Linked DNA regions of Homo sapiens. The protein of the gene in region 2 interacts with the protein of the main gene of each other region in a pairwise test. Each region holds a gene or a part of one and is shown on either strand. Other genes may lie near its edges.

Evidence for each region. The genes of interacting proteins can lie anywhere in the genome.
Region 1: the proteins of DDX49 (region 2) and PSMB2 interact in a two-hybrid assay, tested with the Homo sapiens proteins (one large-scale study listed by BioGRID and IntAct).

Annotation. Positions count from the first base shown.
Region 1 is NC_000001.11:35,627,875-35,631,526, reverse strand, and holds part of PSMB2 (proteasome subunit beta type-2), read left to right. Parts: exon of another isoform or gene 1-91; intron 92-182; coding exon 183-253; intron 254-3,652. UniProt on the Homo sapiens protein: Non-catalytic component of the 20S core proteasome complex involved in the proteolytic degradation of most intracellular proteins. This complex plays numerous essential roles within the cell by associating with different regulatory particles.
Region 2 is NC_000019.10:18,922,577-18,925,936, forward strand, and holds part of DDX49 (probable ATP-dependent RNA helicase DDX49), read left to right. Parts: intron 1-27; coding exon 28-168; intron 169-1,656; coding exon 1,657-1,732; intron 1,733-2,046; coding exon 2,047-2,123; intron 2,124-2,305; coding exon 2,306-2,403; intron 2,404-3,360. UniProt on the Homo sapiens protein: ATP-dependent RNA helicase that plays a role in various aspects of RNA metabolism including the regulation of mRNA export and the levels of pre-ribosomal RNA. Regulates the stability and synthesis of pre-ribosomal RNA and thereby regulates cell proliferation.

The DNA.
Region 1 (3,652 bases), on a different chromosome or scaffold from region 2:
GCTATTTCATAGCTGTTGCATGAGGAAAGGGACTAGAGTAGGATTGTACCCCTCAGTCTATGCTTTGTTTACTCTGAGTGTACAAAAGATGGTGGGCTTTAGGAACAGGGGTAGTGAATAATTTGGGGCACTGTTATTCCTTCTGCTTTACTTTAAGTATGACTCTTTATCTCTTCTACCAGGATATGAATTGTCTCCCACGGCAGCAGCTAACTTCACACGCCGAAACCTGGCTGACTGTCTTCGGAGTCGGGTAAGTAATATATCAGACATTGTTAGATAGAGCAGAAAAATCCTTTGTGCTTCTTTTATATTCTCATTATACATGAGTAGTATTTTTGCCCTTTTTTGGCCTTCCAGAACCCCTCCTGTTGCTACTTGTTCATTCTTAAGTCCAATGTCTTTGTGCACAGTTGTTATTAATAGGTACAGCCCAAAGGGCAAATATTCATTCCCAGAGAATTGGTTGGGACACACCAATATGAAGGCCTGTGACAACTTACCCTTTTTTTTTCCCCCTAAAAACTATTTTTTAGAGCAGTGTTAGGTTCACAGCAAAATTGAGAAGAAGTATAAAGATTTCCCACATTCCTCCTCACCCACATGTATAGCATTCCCCATTATCAGCATCTTCCACCAGGGTGATACATTGTCACAAATGATGAGCCTATATTGACAGTAATCACCCAGGTCCATAGTTTACATTAGGGTTTACTTTTGCTGTTGTGGATGTTATGGGTTTGGACAAATGTATAATGACATGTATCTACCATTACAGGATACAGAGTATTTTCACTGCCCTAAAAATCCTTTGTACTCTACTTATTCATCCTTCTCCATCCCCACAACTCCTGACAACCACTCATCTTTTTACTTTCTCCATGGTTTTGCCTTTCCCATCATGTCATATAGTTGGAATCATGGATTATGCAGCCTTTTCAGATTGGCTTCTTTTATTTGGTAATACACGTTTAAGGTTACCCTATGTCTTTTCATGGCTTGATAGCTCATTTCTTTTTAACATTGAAAAATACTCCATTGTCTAGATATACTACAGGTTATTTATCCATTCACCTACTGAAGGACATCTTGGTTGCTTCCAAGTTTTGGCAATATGAATAAAGCTAATGTATACATCCATGTGCAGGTTTTTGTTTGAACATAAGTTTTTTTTTGCGTAAATACCAAGGAGTGTGATTGCTGGATCATATAGTAAGAGTACGTTTAGTTTTTTCAAAGTGTTTTTGTAACAAACCATATTACTTAATACCTGTGACTGAAAGTCTCTATGTGTTAGTGAAAGTAGAACTTTGAAAATAATAATTCAGATTATTTTTATTTTTATTTTTTTGAGATGGAGTTTCACTCTTGTTGCCCAAACTAGAGTGCAATGGTGCAATCTTGGCTTACTGGAACCTCTGCCTCCTGGGTTCAAGTGATTCTCCTGCCTCCATTTCCCAAGTAGCTGGGATTACAGGCATGCACCACCACGCCCAGCTAATTTTGTATTTTTAGCAGACACGGGGTTTCTCCATGTTGGTCAGGTGTCAGGCTGGTCTCGAACTCCTGATCTCAGGTGATCTGCCCGCCTTGGCCTCCCAAAGTGCTGGGATTACAGGCGCGAGCCACCGCACCTGGCCGGTAATGTGGATTTTTATCTCGAGATTGCTTATCTGTGTTTCTCTTTTTTTCTTTTTCTTTTTTCTTTTTTTTTTTGAGACGGGGTCTCACTCCAGTTGCCCAGGCTGGAGTGTAGTGGTGTGATCTCAGCTTACTGAAGCCTCAACTTCCCGGGTTCAGGTGATTCTCCCACCTCAGCCTCCCAAGTAGCTGGGACTACAGGTGTGCACCACCACATCTGGCTAATTTTTTGTATTTTTAGTGGAGGCAGGATTTCACCATGTGGCCCAGGCTGGTCTTGAACTCCTGGACTCAAGCAATCTGCTGGCCTTGGCCTTTCAGGGTGCTGGGATTATAGGAATGAGCCACTCACTGTACCTGGCGTACTTACCTGTGTTTTTCTATGACTTTTTCCCAAAGCATACAGCATTGTTCCTCCTTACTTATTCTAGCCTTGTTGCTATTCTAGAGCTGTCTCCATTTCATCGACAGCATGTTAAAAGATGCAACACTAAGTTAAGGATTGAATGCATTAAAGATTGTGTAGGATGTGCTAGGAAAGTTCATATGGTTGCTAAAGGTGTGTGTTATTCCCTTCCCACAGGGACTAAATAAATAGAGCCTTACCACGTGATCTCACCCCCTGTGCCTGTTTACTTATCTATGAAATGGAGATAACTTCCTAACCCCACAGGGGTGCCAGGAAAATGAATGCTTGTAAATCATAATATTTAACATTCATGTGACTTTTGCCCAAAGCATTTTGCTTAATAATTTAATCTACTCACTATTCCACTGAGAAAGATAGTCTCTATCACTGAGATGAAGTGAAAGGCATAAAGTGTCAAAGGGACTAGCTCCAGGTCACACAGCAGGTCAGACAAAGCTAAAATAATGGTGCCATAATTATTTGACTATTCTGCCTTTGGTTCTTCAGTAGTGTTTCTAGAACACTGATGCTATTCATATTTTTATTATGGTTTGAGTTTTCATCTGTACTTGCTTAAAATAACAAGTTACTTTTTTTAAAGTTACTTACTACAGATCTATAAAGCAGTTTATTTTCTAGTGCCTAATAATCTTTGACTGATAATTTCTCAATAAATAGTACCTCTCAGTGCTAGCTTTGACCAAGGGCTTGTACAATCTGAGGGATCATGAAGTTTGAAGAGAAGCTAGAGACATGTAGGATTGAGAGGAGGAGGCAAATTTACATACATTGTTTTGTCCTGGGTGAAAGATCAGTAGTCTTTTCTTTAAAAAAAAAAAAAAAAATATATATATATATATATATATATATATATATATATTTTTTTTTTTTTTTTTTTCTTCCAAGAAAGTCATTGTCACCAAGTGGTCTTTTCTTCACTCCTCCTTGAGAAAGGAAAATGGGTCAGATATTAGTTTTTCTGTCACCCAGAAGTTCCTGTGGTGTTCAGCATTTTATGACTTGCCATGTACGATGTTCCTCTGACTTATCAGGCAGAACCGGAGTAAGAATTCCAGCTTTGGGCACAATAAATACTGTGTCATAAATATCACAGACATTAAGTGAATTAAGCTCCTTTTTGGAATTGAGATAAGAATGGCAGTGTGCTTCATGCAAATGCAGTGAATCTGGTTTAATCTTCTCCTAGCAGAAATGTTTGATGTCTTAACAAATATCCCTTGTAGACAGTGACATGGGGCTCTGGTAAATATTGACTACCTCTGCCTGAGCTTTTCCAGTAGGTCCAATCTCTGCTCCCCCATCTCCTTATCAAAATAGATTCTTAGTTCTAAAATATGAATTTATATTTTAGTCGTCTTATTCTGGGAAGAGAGATGATAGTTTGTCAGTGTTCCTAATAAGTGCAAAGTCACCAAATTTAGTATATTTATATGGTCACACCAGTTGGCAGATGTGACTCATTTTGGGTCAGCCAGTTACCATGTATAACTTCTGTGTCTGTAGCTCAAATTGTTTGATTTCTAATTTGCTCTGTGTATGTGTGGTGGTTTGGTTGGGAGGACATTTACTACCACTGAGTAT
Region 2 (3,360 bases):
CGTGGCGGTCTATCTGTCCATCCCCAGGGTGAGCACCGTGGAGCAGCTGGACCAGCGCTACCTGCTGGTGCCTGAGAAGGTCAAGGACGCCTACCTGGTCCACCTGATCCAGCGCTTCCAGGATGAGCACGAGGACTGGTCCATTATCATCTTCACCAACACGTGCAAGTGAGCGGGGCCCGCCTCTCCCCTCCCACCGCCCTTCAAAGGAGGAGGTGGCCCGACGTCTTTGGTCTGGGACACACAGCCAGTCTCAGCACTCCCCAGCCTCTGCTCAGCCTGGAGGTCATGGGGGCTTCCCTCAAGGAGCCAAGGTCCCTCAATCTGAAGGTGCAGCCGGCCTTTGGGGTTCCTCAGCCCAGCCGTTGATGGAAGGGCCAGGAAACCCCTGCAAGCAGCTGTTTGAGCAGCCCATTTGCTGTGTTCTGGGGGTGTCACTGAGCTTTCCTGGGCCTTTAGTCCCATCTCAGAGGAAGTTGTGACAACTAACAGGCCTGGTGTGCGTCTGCACAGACAGAGACCCCTGGGGAGGGCAGTTCATATCTTCATTGAATTGTTTGGGAAGGTCATTGAGAAGCTGGAGGCTCTTCCAGCATGAGCCAGGATAGAAGGGCAGAAATCAAGGCGCTTTAAATGCGTTACCTCCCAGAAGAGAAAAGTTGGGACTGGGTGCAGTGACTCACACCTGTAATCCCAGCACTTTGGGAGGCCGAGGTAGGCGGATCACCTGAGGTCAGGAGTTCGAGACCAGCCTGCCCAACGTGGTGAAACTTCATCTCGACTAAAAATACAAAAATTAGCCAGGCATGGTGGCGAGCACCTGTAGTCCCAGCTACTGGGGAAGGTGAGGCGGGAGAATCACTTGAACCCGGTAGGTGGAGGTTACAGTGAGCCGAGATCACGCCACTGCACTCCATCCTGGGGGACAAAGTGAGACTGTCTCAGGGAAAAAGAGAGAAAAGTTTGGCTGCAGGGTGGCTGTCAGGCGTGGCAGGATCCAGCAGCTTATGTGATGGTCCCCATCCTTTCTCCCTGTGCCCCTCTTTCTCCTCTGTTTTCCTCTGCTGGCTCCTTCTTGGCCTTCTTGGTAACAGTGACCACCCCTAGCAAGTCAGTTTCCAGCCTTCCAGCCCTGCAGTCCCAGGGCCAACTCTTGTCAGTTCCAGCTCCAGGGAGGGATCAGCAGAGAGGACATCAGGCAGGCAAGCCGTCTGTCAACCCTCATCCTGCCTCTTTTTTTTTTTTTTTTTTTTGAGAGTCTCACGCTGTCCCCCAGGCTGGAGTGCAATGGCGCAATCTCGGCTCACTGCAACCTCTGTCTCCTGGGTTCAAACAATTCTCCTGCCTCAGCCTCCTGAGTAGCTGAGGCTACAGTCATACACCATCATGCCCGGCTAATTTTTGTGTTTTTAGTACAGATGGGGTTTTGCCATGTTGGGCAGGCTGGTCTTGAACTCCTGGCCTCAAGTGATCCACCCGCCTCAGTCTCCCAAAGTGCTGGGATTACAGGCATGAGCCACCGTGCCTGGCCTGCTGCCTCTCCTTTCTAAGCTGCATGAGGCCACTGTGCTAGGTGTCTCAGGGGCGGGTGGGGGCAGGAACACCTTCCCAGAACCTGAGAGCTGGAGGGGTTGACAGGCACATCCTTCCCGCCAGGACCTGCCAGATTCTGTGCATGATGCTGCGCAAATTCAGCTTCCCCACCGTGGCTCTGCACTCCATGATGAAGCAGGTGAGGCCACCCTGGGGCCCGCCAGCCTCACCCTGGGATACCTTCCCCGCCTCAGACATTGGCCCCGATCCTTCCTTCTGCCGGGCGCCTTCTTCCTGCCACCTGGTCTCTTCTGGTCCCAGAATATCGCAGCTCAAGAGGCCCTCCCTGACCGCATCTCTTTTAGCCGTCATTCATTTGTCCCGGTCTGACTTCTCATGGCCACCTTCCTCAATGGACGGCTGGGGACTGTCCCGGCCTCCACCCTGTCCCGAGGCCTCACACAGAAAACCCTGCCTTCATGCATTCCCAATTTTCTTCCCAACCCTGTGCAGAAAGAACGCTTTGCCGCCCTAGCCAAGTTCAAGTCCAGCATCTACCGGATCCTGATCGCAACAGACGTGGCCTCCCGGTGAGCAGCCCCCAGTCTCCTGCCAAGGGCACTCCCTCTTTTACTACAAGGCCCCACAGATGAGAAGGCTGGCCTCAGGCATGTCAGGCAGCCCTAGCATCCCTGCTGAGTGACCCTGGGTGAGTCCTTGCCTCGGTTTCCCCACATGGACAGTGGAGCTGACCAGCCACCTCTGCCTCCAGGGGCCTGGACATCCCTACGGTACAGGTGGTCATCAACCACAACACCCCCGGGCTCCCCAAGATCTACATCCACCGAGTCGGCCGGACGGCCCGTGCAGGTGAGCAGTGGAGGGGGAGGCCGAGCCTTGGGCCTCTGTCCCTCCAGCCTGCCCAGCAAATTCAGGTGGTAGGACGTGGGTAGGGTGCAGCCCACAGATGAGAGCTACTCAGGGCCATGTTTGCAAGTTGGGGAGTTGTCCTTTCTAAAGCAAAGGTGAATCCCAGCTACTCGGGAGGCTGAGGCAAGAAGATCACTTGAACCCGGGAGGTTGCGGCAAGCTGAGAATGCACTATTGCACCCCAGCCTGGGCAAAAAGAGCAAAACTCTGTCTCCAAAAAAATAAAATAAAATAGGCCAGGTGCGGTGGCTCACGCCTGTAATCTTAGCACTTTGGGAGGCCGAGGTGGGTGGATCACGAGGTCAGGAGTTCGAGACCAGCCTGGCCAACATAGTGAAACACTGTCTTACTAAAAATACAAAAAAATTAGCCAGGCGTGGTGGAGGGTGCCTGTAATCCCAGCTACTCGGGAGGCTGAGGCAGGAGAATTGCTTGAACCCGGGAAGCGGAGGTTGCAATGAGTGGAGATCGCACAATTGCACTCCAGCCTGAGCAACAGTGTAAGACTCTGTCTCAAAAAATAATAATAAACTAAAATAAGTAAATAAAATAAAATTGTAAAATAAAGCAAATGCAAGTCAGGTGCTGCCTTCACCCAAGCCAGGTGATGAACTGAGCAGTGTGGGGCTGCCCCCTGGGAGGGTGCACACACAGCTCCGGCCCCCACTACTTGCTGCTGCCTCGTCAGGGAGGGGCATGGTGTCCATGAGATGCTGTCAGTTCTGAAGCCAGGAAAGATGTGGTTGCTGGGGTCGGACTGGGCCTGGACCTTCTATCCTGACCCTGTGGTGCTGGGCAGGTCACTTCCACTCCCTAGACCTCACATGGTGGATAATGAGAATGGTGACGTCCTCGTGGGGCTGCCATGAGGGTCACGGACCTTGTCCACCATCAGTG